Linked DNA regions of Homo sapiens: region 1 is linked to region 2. Evidence: fine-mapped expression QTL. Tissue or cell type: whole blood. Region 2 holds a variant in brackets; the other region holds the start of a gene. All regions are shown on one strand. Distances are between the middles of the regions.

The links. PIP is the estimated chance that this variant, and not a neighbour inherited with it, causes the effect.
Region 1: it holds the start of DGCR2, and the variant in region 2 is fine-mapped to the expression of DGCR2 in whole blood (TOPMed, PIP above 0.99).

Annotation. Positions count from the first base shown.
Region 1 is chr22:19,118,800-19,126,891 of GRCh38, forward strand. It overlaps DGCR2 (DiGeorge syndrome critical region gene 2), which reads right to left and starts at 3,613. Exons shown (of 10, transcript NM_005137.3): 1 at 3,329-3,613. The coding sequence starts at 3,407. It also overlaps the pseudogene TSSK1A. RefSeq lists an enhancer at 2,972-3,473 and silencers at 3,258-3,377, 3,498-3,937.
Region 2 is chr22:19,051,345-19,059,444 of GRCh38, forward strand. DGCR2 (DiGeorge syndrome critical region gene 2) reads right to left here. Exons shown (of 10, transcript NM_005137.3): 6 at 5,642-5,818. It also overlaps the pseudogene RPL28P6. Among named protein-coding and RNA genes, the nearest start is that of DGCR11, 7.0 kb to the left of the region's middle. The variant G/A (reference allele first, on the strand shown) is at 4,830.

The DNA of each region.
Region 1 (8,092 bases), 67 kb after region 2:
TAAAGCTAGAAAGAAAAACAGTTTTAGAATCAGCAGTCGATGCTGCCTTCTCTACACAGATGGAGAAAGGGCCAATGAGACAGTATCACAATCAGTGGTCCCCAAATCCCCCCACCATCTCGCTGTCAGTTACCTCAGCAGTAGTCTCCAACCGTTCTTCCTCATCACACCCCCAGTGATCATAACACACATCATCAGTGGTCACATGGCCAAACACAGAAGGGATTTGGCAGAGGGTGAGTGGTTCTGTCCCTCAGACTGGAGTATCCACATGGAAAAAGATTCTGCACCCTCACCTAGAGGACCCTGGGACCTAACAGGGGACAGAGGCAGTCTGTGGCTCCACCTGGGGTTAAGGAAGCTGTTCAGAGCATAATATGAGGTACTCCTGTGGCTGGGCTGGAGACACACAGTTGGAGTGCACAGACCCCAGTCACGGGTGCATGATGGGGGGAAGGCCAGACTCCTACGATGAAATCTCATCTCAGCCTTAGCTTCATGAGTGCTCTGGATTTCAGCTTCCCCATCTTTAAATGAGGCTAAAAACAGCATCTAGCAGGGACCTCTTGAGAGTTAACATATGTTAGTGCTTAGAACAGTGTCCGGCACATGACACATCTTAAATCAAGTTCAAATGTGCACTTAAAAAAAAATTGCTGGGCATGGTACCTCAGGCCTGTAATTCCAGCACTTTGGGAGGCCAAGGCAGGTGGCTCACCAGAGGTCAGGAGTTCCAGACCAGCCCGGCCAACATGGCAAAACCCCATCTCTACTAAAAATACAAAAATTAGCCGAGCGTGGAGGCGTATGCCTGTAATCCCAGCTACTCGGGAGGCTGAGGCAGGAGAATCGCTTGAACCAAGGAGGTGGAGGTTGCAGTGGGCCAAGATCACGCTACTGCACTCCAGCCTGAGCAACAGAGCAGGACTCTGTCTCAAAAAAAAAAAAAAAAAAAAAATTGGTGAAAGGTCAAGTACAGCAAGCACTTGCTGCCCCATAACTCCATGAAAGGCCTTCCACCCTGCCCTGTACCAGAGAGGAAGCCCAGGTGGCTTGGCATCATCTTCAGGGACCCCACCAGGCAGGAGTCAGAAAACACCCTCCTGAGAAGTGGGCTCTGACTGATACCTTCCTCATACTCAAGTATGCTTTTAAGGCCGGAATCCCCACAGAAAGAACGCAGACTAAGACCAGAGAAGCCCCAGCCTCTTGCAAGCACCAGCCAGGCAGATCCCTGCAGCACTCTCAGGAAGGACACATGGTGAATGTGTGAAGAGGCACACACGGGCATACAAGGAACACATCAGGCCCAGAGGCCTGCCCTCCCTGCCCAGCCAAAGCCAGGAAGCCAGCTGCAGCTCCCGGGTTCTGCAGGGCAACTCAAGACGCCTCCAGGGGTAGCTGCAATGTTCTCATCTGGAGAGTCATGGAATCGAAAGAATAAGTTTGCTCCCTCTACCAGATCCACCCCACCCATGCCCTACTCCGACCTCAGTGTGAGGTCTCCTGTGACGCCCTCACTGCTTCACAGGTACAAAAAGATGGCCACCTCCACCCACCTCTGGGACCCCACACTCCAGGGTATTCAACACACAGGAGTGTGACAAGTGACTTACACCTGGCCTCTGTTCCACATCAGGCACTCCTAAAAGGAGGGGCTTGTTCTTGTCACTTGGATTCCCTAGGGATGGGCAGGGGGCAAGCACCCACAGGCACTTTCTCAGTTGCTGCTGGCCAGTTGGCAGGCTATGTGAAAAGGCTGGCAAGGAAAAAGGAGTCGGGGACGTCAGTCACCTCTATCACCCAGGCAGGAGATGCTGGGCCTGGAACCAGAGGCACCCCAAAGAAGCCAGGCATAATATGGCCTCACCTGAGCCCGGTGACCTCATCTGCAAAACTGGGACTCAAGAATCAGAAAACGGTGACCTTCTACCTCTCTACACGTACATATATGTTTTCTAAAGAAGTTAATCACAAGAATCCACAAACCCATTGGTTCTGACCTCCAAGAGCCTATATGATACCCTCCTCCACAGGTAGCCCTTTTCCTGGCTTCTGTTCTTACCAAGGCCACCCCACAACTAGTCATCCCGCTGCCCAGAGAGCAGCCAAAAGCAGTGAGCAACTAGCTCTACATGGGGAGACCAGAGAAGCATCACTGAATCTGTCCAGGTTGAGCACCGGTCAGGGCCTTGGCCACCAGGCAGGCACTAGGGAGGAGGCAGACATTCCACATAGATGACACAAGCGCAGAGCCAAGAGGTGCGGTGTATCTGGGCTGGGAGCCTGGCTAGGGCACAGGAGAGGGCCACACACCCCGTGCTCCCACACCCAGGTCATCAGAGAAGATGGCCCTGGCACTTCTGCCTTCATGGGACCTTTCCTCCATTAAGAAATATTAAGAGTCATGCTTTTTCACTGTATTAGTATAAAGATGACTGTATTAATATACATACGAAAACATTTTATTTGACCTAAAAGTTCATTTTTTTTCTGCTGACTTTAAAAAAAAATAAAATAACATTCGAAGGCTACTAAAAGTACCGTGGGCAAGTGATACCAGGATTCCTGTGCCTGATGGATACATCGGCCCTGCATTTAGGGAGTTTGATTTTTTGGTGCAGTTCAAGGGGAGGTACACCGAAATAGGTAGAAAAGGGTCTCCTGGTTGCCACGGTTCTGATTCCCCACCACAGACTTAAGAACACACTAGCTCCGAGGGGAGTTCCAAAGCACGGACTCATTCATCACATACACGCAGCACGGCTAAGGGCCCCGCACAGTGGCGAGGTCTCTGCTCCCGGGACGCTCGCGCCGGCCACACAACGCTAGGCTGACTCCTGGTGCCTCCTCTAGGCCCGGTGGGACCTGAGGACTTCCTTAGCGCAACGTCTCACTGAATGACAGCCACAACCACCGCTGTCCAGGCGAGGAGTTTCCAGGACTGAGAGGCTGGCACTAGGCCACTGCTGGGAGGACGTCTGTGAAACCAGGTGCCCCTGAGAGCCACTGTCCCCAGCCCGACTCCGACGCTGGACTGGCGAGAGGGTGCGCCCGTGGCGTAGCTCCTGGCCGCCGCCGCTCCCGGGAAGGGCCCAGAGGCAACATCCTGGACAGCAGAGCTGCACGAAGTCCGAGGCGCCGCGAGCCCAGGTAAGCTCCAGCAGGCGTCCGCAGAGAGTGCCAGGCGGCCCGCGAGCCAGGCCCCGCCCGCCCCTGCCCCAGGCGCGGCCCCTGCAGGAGGGCGCCGCGGGTGAAAGGAGGTCCCGGGGCGACCCCGGCCCCGCTCGCCGCCCAGCCCCCACACCGCCCCCATCGCGCGGCGCACCTGGCCGCAGCGGCTCGGTGACAGTGAGCACGAGCAGGAAGAGCAGCAGGAAGGCGCCGCTGTCTGCCTTGGGCACCATTTATCCTCCGTTCATCGTCCCCGGGGCGGCTGGAAGGCCGGACCAGGCCGGACTGAGGGTCAGGGGACCGTGCCAAGCGGAGGGTCAGGCGGAGCTGAACCTGGGCGAGGCGCGGAGAGGCGGCGGGAAAGAGCTTCGGCTGGGCCGCGGGCTGGCGCACACTCTCGGCTGCAACCTCAGGCACCGACTCCAGCTGCGCGCAAGATGGCGGCCGTCCTGCTCGGCTCCGCGCCGCGCCGCCCCGCCCCGCCTCCCGCCCGCGACGCAGGCGCGGGCCAATGACCGTCAAGATGGGGGGCGGGGCCAGAGCCAAAGCCCTCCGAAGAGGGTGAGGCCTAAGGTCGCGACGGCGGAGGGCGGGGACCTAAGGGCGGGGACTGAGGGGCGGGCTCTAAGGGAAGGGCGGGACCATACGGAGTGAGGCGTGCCATTGGTTAAGCAGAGAGGCAGGGCCGGGGCCGGGGCCTGAGCGGCGGGGCCACCGAAGGGAGTAGGGTCTCTGGACGCCGGTTAGGGACGGCGGGCGCGGGACGGCAAGGATGGACATCGAAAGGCGCGGGGCATGGGGCGGGGCGCCGAGGGGTCGCGCGGGTGGGGAGCGGAGAGAACGAAGTGGGAACCTGGCTGGGACTCCAAGGGTCTTCACACCTGCAAGCTCAGGTCCCGTGAGCAGCCCAAAAGTGCGCCCCAAAGGGGTCTTTTTAAGGCCGAACCGCTGTGGAGGAGGGAGGGCCTGCCGGTTCTGAGGGTGGGGAAAGAGGAACAGGAATGGCCTAAGAGAGTGTCAGGCAAAGAGAGACCGGGAAGGCCAGGTCCTGGAGACTGCAGCGAAGCCGGCTCCCTGGAGGACCTGCCTACACAATGGCTAGGGGAAGGCCACATGTGCAGGAAAGAAAGCTAGGCAGAGAGGAGGCTCAGCGCCCCTGCGAACAGTGCTCCAAGTGCCACTTCTCCCGTCATCACCAACAGGGTGAACCTTGGAGGGCAGTGTCGGCGAAGAGTCCAACTCTGTAAAATATTTGAAGACATTTCTTCTGAGCCAATATGTGACCAATAGCCTGGGACACAGCCCCAGGAGATCCTGACAAGTGCCCAAGGGGGTAGGGCCACAGCTTGGTTTTATACATTTTAGGGAGACAAGACATCAATCAGCACATGTAAGATATACATTGGTTCAGTCGGAAAAGGCGGGACAACTTGAAAGTGGGGGGTGGAGGGGGGCTTCTAGGTCATGCGGATTGGCAGTTGGTTCAAAGAGTTTATCTAAAGACCTGGAATCAATAAAAGGGACTGTCTACATTAAGGGGTTGTGGAGACCAAGTTTCTTAGGCAAATGAAGCCTCCAGGTATCAGGCTTCACAGAGAAAAGACTGTTAATGTTTCTTATTAAAAAGTGCCAGACTCTGCCGGGTGTGGTGGCTCACGCCTGTCATCCCAGCACTTTGGGAGGCCAAGGCGGGCGGATCACCTGAGGTCAGGAGTTCAAGATCAGCCTGGCCAACATGGTGAAACCACATCTCTACTAAAAATACAAAAGTTACCCAGGCGTGGTGGCACACGCCTGTAATCCCAGCTACTCAGGAGGCTGATGGCAGGAGAATCGCTTGAACCGGGGAGGCAGAGGTTGCAGTGAGCCAAGATCATGCCACTGCACTCCAGCCTGGGCAACAGAGTAAGACTCTGTCTCAAAAAAAAAAAAAAAAAAAAGGAAAAAAAAAAGGAAAAATAAATAAAAGGTGCCAGACTCTAGTTAATTCTCTCAGGAGAAAAGACCTTGAAAGGGATAGGGATTCTCTACAGAATGTAGATTTTCCCCACAAAAAACAGCTTTGCAGAGCGACTTCAAAATATGTGAAAGAAACCTGTTTTGCAGTAAAATATGTGTTTCCTTCCGGGCCTGCTGTCATGCTGGTATCTTACTGCCACAGAGTCTGTTGTCAGTCTTCAAGTCTCTGTGTCGATGTTACACTGCTTAGCTGTGCCTGAAACCTGAAGGGAGGAGGGATAATGAGGCCTGACTCCCACTTCCTATCACGGCCTGAAATAGTTTTTCAGGTTAAGTTTGGAATGCCCTTGGTGGAGAGGAGGGGTCCATTCAGATGGCTGGGGGGTTAGAGTTTTATTTTTGGTTTCCAGGAGACAGTAGTTGGGGTGTCCCCAGCGGGAAGGAGAAGGAGGCTGTCTGGAAGGAGGAGAACCAAGAATGCACAAAGGCCTGGCAGTGGGCAGTCAGCGTTAGGGAAGAAGGTGAAGGAGCAGAGAAAAGGGGGAAGGGCCACGGCAGGTGGGGACCCAACCCAACATGAGTGACAACCAGCCCGCCCTACCAAGTCATCCTGAGGGGCCCAGGGTTCCACTTGGCTCCTGTGAGAAAGGGGTGCTCACTCCCTCTAGGTGGATGAGGCCAAAGTCAAATCCAAGGCTAGGATAGTCATGTGACTCCTACTCCCCTAGGGCATAGCCCGGAACAAGTGCTGGACACAGAGCCTGGCACAGCAGAGGGGCTCCACTGCCAGAAAAAACAATGGCCACACTCTCCAGTGCTGCCCCTGCTGCTTGTACTGTCCTCAGAGCAGCCACCAGTGCTCAGGGTGGCATCCAGTCCCCGCCTTTAGCCCCCAGCCCCAGATCTGCCCTGGGAGCCCAGCCAGGGGCAGAAAAAAAACTAGTTCATTGAGTGCCAGGGAGCCCTGCCCAAGGACATGGCGTGCAAGATGTTCCACCAACTCTCCTCAGCCATTAAATACTGCCACGACCTGGACATCATGCACCAGAACCTCAAGTGTTAGAACCTTCTCCTCGACAAGGACTTCAACATCAAGCTGTTCTACTTCAGGTTCTCCAAGCTCTGCCTGCGGGATGACAGTGGCCAACAGAGATTAAGCAAGAACTTCTGCGGGTTGGTGGCATATGCAGCCCCCGAGCTGCTGCAGGGCATCCCCTACCAGCCCATGGTGTATGACATCTGGAGCCTGGGCATGATCCTCTACATCATGGTCTGCAGCTCCATGCCTTACGACTCCAACATCAGGAAGATGCTGCGTATCCAGAAGGAGCACCGCGTGGACTTCCCACACTCCAAGAACCTGACAGACGAGTGCAAGGACCTCATCTACTGCATGCTGCAGCCCGACGTCAGCCAGCGGCTGCACATCCATGACACCCTCAGCCAATGCTGGGTGCAGCCCAAGGCACAGGGACTGCCCTCTATGGTCTTCAACAAGGAGGGGGAAAGCTCCCAGGGAACTGAACTCTTGTGGACCCCTGAACCTGGCTCTGCCAAGAGGTCTGCCACCAAGCTGGAGCCTGGGGAACAGACACAGCCCGAGGGACAGCCTGAGACAAAACCTGAGGGGTTGGCAATGCAAATGTCCAGGCAGTCGGACATCCTAGGCTTCCCCAGCAAGCCGTCGACCAGGGAGAAAGAGGAAGGGCCCCCCAGCAGCCTCCAGAGATGCGCACCTAGTGAGCCGTTTGTGGCCCAGTGTGCCAGCGGCGAATGAGATGGAGCTCACGCCTTCAGGCCCAAGCTCTGAAGAAGTCAAGGCACAAACCAGAGAAGGAAGACGGTCCCGGATGAGCCGCTGTTTTCATCAATTTCTTCTCTCTCCCCTTGAACTTCATAACCGACATTGCTAAAGGAGCAATAAATCACTATATTAATGCAGATGCCAAAGTGAATGTCTTTGCCTCAACTGACTAGTCCTGGGCTCCCCTCCACTGGTTTCCCACTCAGATTGTGCAATGATTCCTCGTTTGCTTGGGAAAACACATCCCAACGTGCCCAGTCCAGACCATGACCTCAGGCCCAGGCTGGGGCTGGGGCTTGGGCTGGGGCTGGGAGAGACCTGGAGGGGCAGGGGCCAGAGCTGAAAGGTGAGTGAGGAAGCCGCTGCCTCAGAAGGGACGCCCCCAAGTGCGGTGCTGGGGTCGGGAAAGGGCAGGGAGAGGACAGGACCAAGAAGCATGCCGAGGTACCCCTGTAGAGGAGCGCAGGCTTTATCTGCAGTTGGGACTGAGGGTCTGGGCAGACCTCTCCAGCCCCACAAGGCTGCCAGTGGGGGTTGTGGGAGGCTGCAGAGGGCAGGTGGCCAGCCTCTCAGCCACTCCTGAGCTCCCTACCCTGCTGGGCAACTCGTTCATTGTGCTCTGTCCATCAGAGGCCCCCTGTGTCCAGCCAGCACCCAGCTTTCAACAGTGCCGGGGTCGCCGCACCCTGTGGTCATTCTCTAGCCCGGGAGAAATAGGAGGCTCTGCTGGATGGCCCAGCCACACTCCAGCCTGAGCATGTCCCACAGTCTTGTGTGGTCTTGACCACATCTTGTTGTCCCCGTCCCAGCCTGTCCCAAGGGACGACACCCCTGCATTAGAAGTTGACACTGGCAAGTAGGATACGACAGGCAACCACAAAGGACAAGCGCTTTCAGAATTACCTCTCCCATGGCCTCTAAGTGGATGGGGCCAAAGTCAAACCCAAGGCTAGGACTGTCATGCGACTCCCACTCCCCCAGGGCGGGGCCTGAAGCAGGTGCTGGACACAGAGAATGTCAGAGCAGAGGAGCTCCACTGCCAGCAACATCGATGATCACTGTCCACAGTCTACCTATGGTCACTTCTCTACCTCGGGAAGACCCCAACCTCAGTCCCCTTGGAGAAGTAGGGTCTAGTGAGAGCCTGGACTGGCC
Region 2 (8,100 bases):
TGAAGGCAAGCTACAGACTAGAAAAAATATTTGCAAACCACATATCTGACAAAGGACTGGTATCTAGAATACATAAAGAACTCTCAAAACTCCACAGTTTAAAAAAGAACAAAACAGATCATTAGTTCACACCTGTAATCTCAATACAGGAGGATCACTTGAGCCTAGGAGTTGCGTTTGAAGCCAGCCTAGGCAACATAGTGAGATCCTATCTCTATAGAAAATAAAAAACTTAGCCAGGCATGACGGTGCACACCTACAGTTCCAGCTACTCAGGAGACTGAAGTGGGAGGACTGCCTGAGCCCGGGAGCTGGAGGTTACAGTGAACTATGATTGCACCACTGCGTTTGAGCCTGGGTGACAGAGCAAGACCCTTTCTCAAAACAAAACGAACAAACGATGCAAAGAGAAAACGGAAGAATAATGTGAACAACAGAGAATATACAGATGGCAAATAAGCACATGAAACATGAAGAGGTTTTAACATCAGTAGCCTCAGGGAAATGCAAATTGAAACCATAAGGAGCCACAGGTCTACATACATATCTGCATACCTAACAGAAGGGCTAAGATGAAAAATAGTGAAAACAGTAAGCGCTGGGGAGGATATGGAGAAATTAAATCACTCCTACGTTGAATCACTCCTACGTTGATAGTGGGACTATAAAATAGTACAGCCACTCTGGAAAACAATTTGCTTGTTTCTTTAAAAACTAAACCTGCAACTACGATACAATCAAGCAACTGTAATCCTGGGCATCTATCACACAGAAGTGAAAACACATTTGCAGCCAGGCGTGGTGGCTCATGCCTGTAATCCCAGCACTTTGGGAGGCCGATGCAGGTGGATCATCTGAGACTGGGAGTTCAAGACCAGCCTGGTCAACATGGTGAAACCCATCTCTACTAAAAAGACAAAAATTAGCTGGGCGTAGTGGCACATGCCTGTAATCCCAGCTACTCGGGAGGCTGAGACATGCGAATCGCTTGAACCCAAGAGGCGGAAGCTGCAGTGAGCCAAGACTGTGCCACTGCACTCCAGCCTGGGCAACAGAGAAAGACTCTGTCTCACACACACACACACACACACACACAAAAGAAAAAAAGAAAAAAGAAAACACGTTTGCACAAAAACCTGTATGCGGATGTTCACGGCAGTTTTCATTGTAATAGCCAAAGACTGGAAACAGCCCAGATGTCCTTCAACACTTGAGGCCTATAGTTTGAGACCAGCTTGGGCAACATAGCGAAATCCCGCCTCTACAAAAAAAAAAAAAATACAAAAATAAGTTGGGCACAGTGGCATGCACCTGTGGTCCCAGTTACTCGGGAGGCTGAGGTGGGAGGTTCACCTGAGCCTGGGAGGTTGAGGCTGCAGTGAGCAGTGATCACACCACTGTACTCTAGGGTGACAGAGACCTTGTCGCCAAAAAGAAAAAAAAAAGGAACAAATCATTAATAAAAGTAACAATTTGGATGACTCTCCAGGGAATTATGAGTGAAAAAAGCCAACCCCAAAAGGTTGCAACTATATGATTCCATTTATAGAACATTTCTGCCTCATGATGATACCTGACAAAGGCCAGACCACATATGACCAAAGGCCTCTGACCTACCACTTCTGTAGCAACCAGTCTAGGGCAGTCAGGATCTGGCCAGTGGCCACCAGCTTCTCTATTTTGAGTCCATACTTCCAACTGGAAACCCACCAGGGAAAGTCAAATATGTTCCCCAAACCAATCACCTCCACTGCCCTGCTTCTAGTCAGGCTGCCTCTAATCAGAGCATACCTGGAGCCTTTAGGGCCCTGGTGAAAAGCCACTGTGCTGGACCCAACTCCAGCTGCAGGAGGGTCAGAAGCACTTGTGAAGGCTCCACCCTGGATCCTCAGGGCACTGGGCCTGCTTAAGGCTCAGATACAGTTAGAACATCAGACCCTACTATCAGCATGCTAACAAGCCTTGAGTCACACAGTGGACTACTGCTAGGCGGGCTGCAAAAGACAGACTCTAGAGATGTAGCCCAAAGGGATGACCTCAAGTAGAGGGTGGAGCAGACATTAAGAAAAACCCTCTGGCAAACCAGCCTCCACCCAGAACAACAATGCTGCTAAATACGAAAGCCTGAGGTGCACTGAGGGCAACTACAGTGCCAACAAACCCCAAGCCCAGCCCAACTCTCGCCCAGATCAACGCCCTGCACTGTACTAAAGACCTCCCCACAAGAAAGGCCTAGTGGAAGTAAAGGCATAGCCACTGCAAGCACAAAACTACTGAACTCAGTCTCTATTGTCCCACACAAGATGTCAGAGTTCCAATGAAAAGCCTAGAAAAAAGTACCATGCTCCAGAGACAAAACAATCAAAAAACCAGACTCAAATATGACACAGATGAAGGAACTTCCCCACAGGGAATTTAAAATAACTACGATTAATTTGTTAAAGGCTCCAGTGGAAAAGCTGGACAATATACAAGGTTAGATGGGAAATTCAGATGAGAGATGGAATCTATAAGAATCAAATGGAAATCCTATAAATAAAAAAACAGACAAAATCAATGAAACAGATGAAGAATACCTTCAATGGGCTCATAAGCAGACTTGACATAGCCAAGGAAAGAATTAGTAAACCTGAGGACAGGTCAACAGAAATTACTCAAACTGAAGGACTAAAAGAATCCAAGAGACATGATGACTAGATGCAATGCATGATTCTGGACAATGAAAAAAATAGCTATAAAGGATATTATTGGAACGACTGATAAAACTGGAATAATGGATTGTGGATTACTGTATGGTACTGTATCCATGCTAAGTGTTCTGATTTTGATCCATATAGTGTGGGTACATAAGAAAGTGTCCTTGTTCTTAGGAAATACACACTGAAGTATAAAACGCTTAATTAAGGTCCACAGTATCTTCAGTTTACTCCCAAATGATTCAGAAGAAACATGTAGAGAAAGTGAATGATAAAGCAAATGCAGTAAAACTGAAATACTGTAACTGGTGAGTCTGTGTAAATGGTGTATGAAAGGAAGTTCCTTGTATTATTCTGCCTTTTCCATAAGCTTGAAATTATACCTAAATTAACAAGTTACAGAAGTCTCCCTCGCCTGACCCAGATGGTCCTATAAGGTGGTTCTATCAAACACTCAAAGACAAGTTTATCTCCAACTTGGACAAATGGATTTAGAGAACAGTAAAATAAAATGTTTGCCAACTCATTTTAGAAAACTAATATAGTATAATACAGAAATGAGTCAATGTAGTCCCAGCTACTTGGGAGGCTGAGGCAGGAGGCTCACTTGAGCCTAGGAGTTCAAGACTGTACTGTGCTATGATCGTGCCTGTGATTAGCCACTGCATTCTTGCCTGGGCAACACAGTGATGCCCCACCTTAAAAAAAAAAAAAAGAGAGAGTCAAGGAGAGTATAGAAAAAAATGTAACAGGCCAACCTCACTTCTTAAAAGAGTTTCAGGCCAGGCACGGTGGCTCACACCTATAATCCCAGCACTTTGGGAGGCTGAGGCAGGTGGATCACTTGAGGTCAGGAGTTCAAGACCAGCGTTCAAGACCAGCCTGACCAACATGGTGAAACGCCATCTCTACTAAAAATACAAAAATTAGCCAGGCGTGGTGGCACATGTCTGTAATCCCAGCTACTCAGGAGGCTGAGACAAGAGAACTGCCTGAACCCGGGAGGCAGAGGTTACAGTGAGCTGAAATCACGTCACTGCACTCCAGCCTGGGTGACGGGGCAAGACTCTGTCTCAAAAAACAACAAAGAGTTTCAAAAATTCTAAATATCAGCAAACCAAATCCACCAATATAATATATTATATATATATAAACCATGAGGATGGTTTAACATAAGAAAATCCATTTATATGAAATAATGACTGAACAGACTGAAGAAAAACTACATAACCCCAATAAAATCCACTAAAAGCATTTAATAAAAATCAGTACACTTTTGTAACACAAATATTCCCAGCAACCTAGGAATAGGTACTTCTTTGACTTCATACAGGTACATTCTAAAATCCTATAGAAGGCATTCTGTAGAATATTGATACATTAAAATAGCATTCTAAGTTGAGAAGACAAGAATGCTCACTACCACCATTTCTAATCATCACTGTCCTGGAGACTGTAGCAAGAAGAGTTGACTGGGCAACATAGTGAAACCACATCTCTAATAAATGTAAATAAATAAATAAATGTCAAAGATTTGAAAGAAGAAACAAACCCATCTAAATAGAAAATCAACAAAATCCACAAACTAAGAGAACCAATAAAGGAGTTTAGAAAACATATCCTAAAATTCACATAGAAAAGGGTCAAAAATAGGCAACATAACAGGCAAGAACAAGGCAGAGGAAGTCGTAACACCAGCAGTCAAGATTTATCATGAAGCTCTCTCTGTTGCCAGCCACCTGGGAGGAGCTGCCGCCCCGGCCGCACATCTGCAATGGATGGTCGCGAGGAATCATCCGGCCTGATCAAGGGGAATAAGCAGACCCACAGCACTGAGCCTGAGAACTTAAAGGCTGCAGCTCCTTCCACTACAACGAGCTGATTCACTGCAGGACTGTGGGTGTGGACCCGGCAGCTGATGGCAAAGGTGTGGTGGTGGTCATGGAGTGGAGATCCGGCCAGCAGAAGCCAGCCACCTCCTATGAGGGGACCACCGTCGGGTGGACACGGTGGCTCACACCTGTAATCCCACCACTTTGGGAGGGCGAGGTGGGCGGATCACGAGGTCAGGAGATCGACACCATCCTAACACTGTGAAACCCGCCTCTACTAAAAACACAAAAAATTAGCCGG[G/A]CGTGGTGGCAGGCACCTGTAGTCCCAGCTACTCAGGAAGCTGAGGCAGGAGAATCGCTTCAACCTGGGAGGCGGAGCTTGCAGTGAGCCGAGATCACGCCACTGCACTCCAGCCTGGGCAACAGAGCGAGACTCTGTCCCAAAAAAAAAAAGAAAAAGAGGACCACCGTCAACAAGAACGCCTGCACCATGCTCGGCAACATCACACACATGATCCGCAAGAACAAAGCCTCTCCCCAACCTGCGCACAGCTGCCATCCCAGAGCCAGCGCCATCCTGCGAAGCCAGAAGCCTGTGATGGTGAAGAGGAAGGGGACCTGCCCCACCAAGAGCTCCTGAGACCCCTGTCCCCCAAAAGCAATAGAGTTAGCTGGCTTTAATAAAAAAAAAAAAACACACACACCATAGACTGGCAAGGTAAACAGAGAAGCAGAGAAGCAGAGAGAAGGATGGCAGAAATGGGGGGTGGGGAGGTGACAAACAGCCTTAGATGCTCCAGAGATGCCAAGTCCTTGGGTCCTCATTCCCATTTACTCTCTTAACAACACTGCAACAGGGAGGACAGGGATGATTGTCTCTTCCGTGGGAAAAGAAGCTGGGCTCTAAGATGCTTCCGTGGGCTCTAAGATGCTGACCAGCTGCCCTGGTCACAGAGCTGCAAATGGGCCCCAAGAACAAGGTGTGAGCTGGTAAGGGGCGTCCACCGCAACACTGCAAATCAGGTTCTGCCTCCGAAACCTTGAACTCAGGGTCCAACAAAGTGACACAAGGGCCCAGACATTCCCCAAGAACGCCAGCTCAAGGGGGCTTACTTCTTTTACACAGAAATGAAGACTTCTCGTAGCAGCTCTCGGCGTGCCAGCTGTGGAGGTCGTGGTGCCGCAGGGTGGGGAAATGGAAGCACTGAAGCTGGGCACAGAACACGTTGTCGTTCTCAGACATGGCCGAGGCAAAGATGGGGTCTGGGGGCAGGAACACCTCTGAAGAGCCTGTTGGGGAGACAAAAGGTGGGGCTGGACAACATCACATCAGAGGACAAGCTGTGCAGTCCTCAAGGGGACCATGGCGTCAGACAGGATCATCAACCACAGGGCCTGGACCGCCAAGTACTGGTGGTCACTGTGGCCAGGTGTTCACTCGGGACTCCCCAACCTCCTGGGAGTCACCCCAGGTGCTGGGCCTAGCGGGAGCCACTCCTTGGAGCCTGCAAGCACACAGGCCACAAACCCTGGGTAGCAGTAAGTGCCAGCCTGAGCACCAGAAGAGGGTGCTGGATCACGGTTAGTGGGTGGCATTTAAAGTTAGAGCAACAGCATAATAACAAAGTAATGGATTGTGGCACACTGGATTAAAATGCAAACAGGGGAATGGGCAAGGGAAACAGGCAGGGAAGCTCTCCCTTAGGACAGCACACTCAGATAAACAGAAGACTTACAAAGTCCACCCAACACCCAGGAGAAAGGCGCCGTCAGGCAGCATTGGCACTGGCCGGCACTGCCAGCAGCTGGCTGCAGGGAACACTTAGGAAGCACTGGCTCCCGGGGACCTCTCTCAGCTCAAGGGAAACTGTCACCCACTCAGCTCCTGCCTAAGCCAGGCACAAGGCAGTCAGAAACCGTGTACCCCTGCCGCAGAGAGCGTGAGGGTTGGGGACTGCTAACCTCCAAGCCTCTCTTTTGCAAGGTTCCAGGTGGGCTCTGGCCATGCCCAGGGCATGGCACAGCCAGCCCTAGGCCCCACTCTCTCCCCTGCACGGCCCTTCCAGTCTGGGCTGCCAAGATTCCTTGAGGCTTACCCGACCAGGATCAATGGAAACACAAAGCAACCTTTCCAAGAAGCAGAATAATGAAGGCACACCTGGTGCTCTCCCCCTCCTAAGACAGCAGCAGTGCAGCTCACCCCATTTATAAGCCTCCAGCATTCTCACCTGCGTCTTTTGGAGCTCTGTTTATACCCAGCACGAAACATGGGGCTCTGCCTCAAAAAAGCCAGTGAGTCTGGAGGCAGGCCTATGCTGTGGGCCTGTGGACACATGGTGCCCTGCCATGGGCAGGAGGACAGCTCTCAGGAAGCTCTGAGACCTGCAAGACCTGTGCCAGGCCAGCAGGCAGCCACAGCAACAGCTGTGCCCCCTTCCCAGGGACATACAGGCCCAGCATCTCGCCTGCCTCATCTGCATCTATCAGACCCACAGCAGAGCAGGAAAGGGGCCCACTGTCTGGAGTCACCTCCCCATACCACCTGGAGGGCTGGTCTCCACTGCTGACAGTGGGTGCCACCACCATCACGCTGTGCACCACCCCACCTTTCCTCCAGGCCCCCGAGCCCCTGCACACCCTCCTCATCTCCCACAGATGCCTTCTCACCTAAGTAGAGCCCCTCCCCTTTTAAACACTGTTTTCTTCACTATTTGCCTTCTTGTCCCGTGGCAAGAAAACCAAACAGGTTCCTTCCAATCTTTAACAAACAAAAAATCTTCAGCGCTGAAGCTAGTTGCCAGCTAAGAGCTCCTGCCCACAACTACAGTACATGACAGCAGACTGAGACCAAGGACACAAATGACCTCTCCGGGCAGAGTCCTGGGACCCAGCATTTGCCCACGAAAGCTGCCTGGACCGGGGCACAGCAAGTCAGAGTGAGTCAGGCAACCAGCAAAACAGGGTTCGTGTGGCACTCTAGGCCAGGGCCCAGAGAGCCACACAGTGCTCCCTCCTGGCAGCAAGCTGCATGGGCACCTGTGTAGCGCCCCTGCCCAGGGGAGCTGCTGGTGGCTCTGCATCCAGGTGCTGAATGGGGGCTGGTCATGCGGGCACTGCATGCCTACCCGAGGTGCAGCCTTGCAGAGCGGGCAGGTGTTCGTCTTTGGAGCATCCCTGGAAGAGGTCACAGTGGCAGCCATGAACAAGGCAGCCTGTGGGGCTGGAGAAGAGGCTGGGGAGTGGTAGGTGATGAGGGTAGTGAAGGAAGGGGCTGCTGGCCTTGATGGAACTGTGATTTCTATGAGAAACGAGAGCTGTGAACAAGGGAGCAGAGGTGAAAAGGACCCCCAGCAGCTGTGTGAGGAGCGGTGGGGCTGGGGCCAGGAGACCAGACAGAGGCCACGAGCACAATCGGGTGACGGATGATTGGGTGTTAGATCCCGGTGGGGGCTGCAAGACTGGTGCCAGGTGATGAGATCCTGGACATATTCCAAAGGTGTGAGAGGAGCCTGGAGGCTTCCCGATACTGCACTGGGGATGACTCCTGCAGATTTTCCTCCAGGGCCTCCCAC